2 separate regions of the Homo sapiens genome follow, and region 1 is linked to region 2. A link means that fine-mapping ties the variant in region 2 to the expression of a gene that starts in the linked region. Tissue or cell type: visceral fat. Region 2 holds a variant in brackets; the other region holds the start of a gene. All regions are shown on one strand. Distances are between the middles of the regions.

Region 1 (2,683 bases), 230 kb after region 2:
ATCAGGCACGGCCAGCACGGTGGCGCCCTGCCGTCCCTCCGCACACACGTCAGAAGGAAGGGGCCTGGAAGGACAAGTTTTGAAGTGTAGGCCGGTGTTGTGATTGCTGGTTGGTTTGGCCTCTCGGCTCCAGGGCAGGTGGGGAATCCCCGGGGCGCTCGCGCATAGGACCTGGGGAGACCACCACGGGCTTTACAAAAACGCAGTCCTGCTGGAGACGCCTCTCCTGGGGCTATTCCTTTCCGTTTTTAGGTGGCTTCCTCCCATCGGTGCTGCACGCAGCGGTTTTTCTGAAGCAGCTGCTGGTTCTCACCGGCGTCTTCCACCCGCGCTGCCTGAGCACCGTCTTTCCACCTTGTGCATTCTGTGCGCTGCGGCATGTCCCGGCGCGTCCTGAGGCCTAACCCCAGTTCGCAGGGAGCCACAGATCAAGGTGTCCTGAGCACACGCCAGGACTCGGGAAATCACGAACAGCTCCCAATCCACTGATGACACCCACAGAACTCCAGTTTAAAAAAAAACAACTGTGAAGGATAATATAAAAAATAAGTGTACCGTCTGCTTTATGATAGTAAACGAAAATTTCCCAAAAGCTTTCACCTGAAACTATCAATGACTTGGAAACCTCATAAAGAAGCAAGTGACCCGGGAGACTGAAACGAGATCACGGAGGCTGGCCCTGGGCCGGCCCTGCTGCCGGCTCCCTGAGGCCTGGAGGGATGGATCCTGGGAGAGGAACCCCGTCCAGGACAAAGCCTGGGGGCTTCACTTTGTGCATCTACCTGATGGCACCAGGGCGGCGGCTGGGACAGTGTTTCTGGGTGCGGCTGGGAGGGTGTTTCCGGACGCGGTGACCCCCGTGTGCTGGGCGTCATCCAATCCTCTGACGGCCTGAAGGTGCCGCGGTGGAGGAAGGAGGAATCGCTCCTGCTCGCCTGCCTTCCTTCCTGCTTGCTCCAGGACGCCTCATCTCACCGTCTCTGGACCAAGGTCTGGAATTTACACCAACCTCCCTCAGAGTCGGGTTGACTGACACCGCAGGCTTTCCTGGGTCCCAGATGGCAGATCCCGAGACCTCTCAGCGCCTGTCACCGCGAGAGCCAGCTCCTCACAATAAATACGTAAACCCATGTATGGGTGGGGCAGAGAGACCCTAAGCATTTCCACACCTGCCTTGAGTGTGTCTGCATCGTCGTTTTGTGATATACATTTCGCCTGCAGTAAGTGCAAAGGCCACCATTCCTGAGACGCAGGCCTGGGCAAAACCCAGGACTCCTAGGTGCCCCGACGCCCCTCCCCAGACAATGCTCCCTCCCACCCACAAGGTTTCCTGGGAGCAGCCGTCGAAAGAAGAAAAAAACAGTCCCGATGGGGGCTGAGGGCAGAGGAGGCCCAGCTGGCCGTCCTCCAGATTCCCATGCTGCCAACAGCTGCCCTCCGGACGGACAGCTCTGCCAGGGACGGTGCCCAGACAGAGGGCAGCGCGTCTTTCTGGGACTGAACCGACGCCAAGCATGCGTGTCACTGAGCCCATGTAACAGAGAGCGGCAGGCGAGATACAGGCGTGCACCCCGGAGAGGACAGGCTGAGGACCCTCAACAGAGACAGGAAAACCTGCCCGTCACTGAGAAATGGTTGGAAAAGTAAGCTCTCTGTGATGTGACAGGCGCTGTCCTTGCTTGAGAGATTGGCGCTGCATTTGGGGGCCCCCAAAAGGTGAACAGAGTATGTGACATATCTGGCACAAGACGTGAGCCCACCCGCATTTCGCTGGGGGAACTGAACTTTGTAATTTTGTTTTCCCACTGGGATTCCTGCTGTCAACACCTTTGGTGGGGGGAGAGTGTCTCCATCACCTGCCTCACAACACGCACCCCTTTGTGTGTCTGTTGTTGTCATTGTTGTTTTGTTTTGTTGCTGTTGTTGTTGTTTATGAGATGGAGTCTCGCTCTGTCGCCCAGGCTGGAGTGCAGTGGCATGATCGCGGCTCACTGCAACCTCCGCCTCCCGGGTTCACGCCATTCTCCTGCCTTAGCCTTCCGAGTAGCTGGGACTACAGGCGCCCACCACGACGCCCGGCTAATTTTTTGTATTTTTAGTGAAGACGGGGTTTCACCGTGTTAGTCAGGCTGGTCTGGATCTCCTGACCTCGTGATCCGCCCGCCTCGGCCTCCCACAGTGCTGGGATTCCAGGCCTGAGCCACCGCGCCCGGCCGCGTGTCTGTTTCTTCTGTCTGCTGGTTTGCTGGTTCTCCCTTTTGCTGCTGGTTTGTTTTTGTCCCATGAGGGTTTAAAGGGCTGCCTTTGGGGGCTAAGTGTCCTAAGAGCAGAAGCTCTAACGCCCACGCTGCTCTCTGAAGCCCCTGCCAAGAACAGCCAGGTCTCAGCTGTCAGATGTTTTCCAGCTGTTACTCGGTTTGAATCTGACACCAGCCCCAGCTTCACTCCGGGAGGCGTCTGCCCAGACACCAGAGGAGGTGCGAAGTTCCGGGGAAGCAGCTGGGCCCGGCCCTGACTGGTGGGTTCCGTGCATCCCACCCTCCTCATTGGATGAGTTTTCACTCACTGAATTCGCGCCAGCGTCCTCAGCACAGGCAGGCGTGGCTGAGTTCAGTCCCTTCATGATCAACTTTGCATGTCTAAGTTTCTGGAACAAAGGGCGTGGCATCGATGGGCGATTTCT
Region 2 (2,683 bases):
AATGGTCAGAGAAATGTGACATTGCCAGCTTTAAAAAGAGAGAGGAGAGGCAATGAGAAAAGGAATGCTGATGTTCTCTAGAAGATAGAAAAGGCCAGGATATGGATTCTACCCTAGCCGCCATAAAGAAACATGCCTGTCGACAACTTGATTTTAGTTCACTAAAATTCATGCCTGATTTCTGACTTGTGTACAGTGTAAGATGACAAGTTTGTGTTATTTTAGGTCACTTAGTTTGTAGAAATTTGTTACAGCAGTAATAGAACAAGTGGTTATCCATATGAGGCAAATTAGATTGGATATCTATCTCCAATAGAAATCAATTCAAGGTGAATTCCAGGAAAATACTTAAAACATTTAGATTAAAAATAAATGAGAATTTTTGTTACATTTGGTAGGTCATAGAACCAAGAAAAACAAACATTAAGGAGGAAAAATGAACATATGACTACATCAAAATATAAAGCTTCTCTATTTGGATGATATCATAAGGTGACAAATCATAAACTGTAATATTTGCAACATATATATGAGTGAATAAATATACATTTAGAATATATATGAACTCCCAAAAATCAACAGGAAAAATAAGACATAGAACAAGCAAAATGCATAAACAAAAGAAGGCAAAACAAAAATAATGACTCATAATTATATGAAAAGAAGCTCATCTTCATAGATGAGCAGATAAATGCAAATTAAAACCACCCTGAGATACTTTTTACATCCATGAGCCTGATAAAAGTTAGAGTCTAAAAGTAATAATTAACAAAGATGGGAAGTAACATAAAATCTTGTCCATTACTGGTTAAAGTATAAACTGATACAGCTACTTTATAGAATATTACATTATAGAATAAACTTGTGAGTATGTATATGCAGTGACTCAGCATCTTCATTGCTAGTATGTACTCAAGAGAAACTTACAGGAGTGGACTAGGAAGTAAATACAAAATGATTACAACATTGTTTGTTATATCAAAAAATAAAAAAGACACCCAATTTTCCAGCAAAAAAAATAAGTAAAAATAAATCCTGGTGTATTCTAACAATGGAATAATATATAGCCATTAAAATAAATCAACTATTACTGTACATATGAATGTAAGTATCAGCAAAACATATTGTTTAGTGAAAAAGTAAGAAGCTGAAGAAGAATATATACAATATGGTTACATTTATATGAAGTCCAAAAACTTGCAAAATAAAGAAATGTATTTAGAAATAGATTCACATGTGAGAAAACTAGAAGAAAATTAATGAAAGGATAAAAGGGATAGCAGTAATTCTGAGTAGTTGAGGGGATTTCAATTGGAAAAAAATAGTATCATATTCTTTAAGTCAGGTAGTGGGTATTAGCATTTGTTTTACCATCGTTCTTTATTCTTATAGCTACACTATATATTTTCAATGTATTTAATGTATTTTTTGCATAATTAAATATTATGCAATAAATGAGAAAACAAAAAAGTAGAAAATGATAAATTACAATAAAAAATGGAGAAAAAATTATAATCTAGTTGA[G/A]TAATGGTATATTACATAGCTATTTTCTTAAGTAGATGTATGTACATGATGTATGCACGATTGTACATACATGTTCTTAATTATATATAAATATATATGTACATATTTTTAATATAAAATACTAAACAAAGTACACCAAAATATTAGCTCCTATGTTAGTGAGATATTGTTTTGTTTTGTTGTATTTTAAGTTTTACATAGTAGGTGTATTTGTCTGTTTTCATACTGCTATAAAGAACTGCCCAAGACTGGGTAATTTATAAAGGAAAGAAGTTTAATTGGCTCACAGTTCAGCACAGCTTGGAAGGCCTCAGGAAATCTACAATCATGGCGGAAGACAAAGAGGAAGCAAGCCAGCTTCTTCGCAAGGCAGCATGAAGAAGTGCCGAGCAAAGGGGAAAGAATCCCTTATAAAACCATCAAATCTCGTGAGAACTCACTATCACAAGAACAGCACAGGGGAAACTGCCCCCATGATTCAATTACCTCCACCTGGTCTCTCCCTTGACCTGTGGGGATTATGAGGGCTATGGGGATTACAATTCAAGATGAGATTCAGGTGGGGATACAAAGCCTAACCATATCAGTAGGCATGTGTTGAATTTTAAACTCAGAGAAAAATACTAGTGTTTTTATAGGATTCTTACTAAAGAAAAACCAGAAAGTAATAAACCATCTACGCTAAGACATAAAATTCAGTTGTTTAGTTACAAGATAGAATGTGGCCTTGTAAGAAAGCAAATTAACTTCTAACATACAAAGCCTTAGAGAAGATTCAAGTGACTGACGGATCTTAAACAGAGCTATTATTACAACTCAAACTGCAGTAAAATATCCTCAGCAACATAGATGTGTGTGTTTCACTAGTCAGAGCAATACAAATTAAATGAAACTCCATTGGTGGTGTTTTTAATCAGACAATTTCTGAAGATGTCCTGGCTTAATTCATAGATGCAAGCCAAATCTCTAGAAGAGTACCATAATAAGAAAAAAAAGAATACAGGCAATTGAGAGCTGTTCCAAAGTTTAGGGAGTTTTTGTAAGGAATTAATAAATAAAAATGTTCTTGAAAGAGAGAAATTAATATGCAGTTCATACTGCCAGAATTGCAGGCAATTTATCAAACTCCCCTAATCCTCCAAAATCGCTATTTTTTTTT

What was found. PIP is the estimated chance that this variant, and not a neighbour inherited with it, causes the effect.
Region 1: FAM240C starts here. The variant in region 2 is fine-mapped to the expression of FAM240C in visceral fat (GTEx, PIP 0.99).

What each region holds. Positions count from the first base shown.
Region 1 is chr2:241,899,318-241,902,000 of GRCh38, reverse strand. FAM240C (family with sequence similarity 240 member C) reads left to right here and starts at 1,537. Exons shown (of 3, transcript NM_001382368.1): 1 at 1,537-1,643. The coding sequence starts at 1,632. The region is part of intron 2 of LINC01237 (long intergenic non-protein coding RNA 1237); the gene reads right to left. RefSeq lists enhancers at 132-777, 778-1,421, 1,422-2,066.
Region 2 is chr2:242,131,070-242,133,752 of GRCh38, reverse strand. The region is part of intron 4 of LINC01881 (long intergenic non-protein coding RNA 1881); the gene reads right to left. Among named protein-coding and RNA genes, the nearest start is that of LINC01881, 44 kb to the right of the region's middle. The variant G/A (reference allele first, on the strand shown) is at 1,525.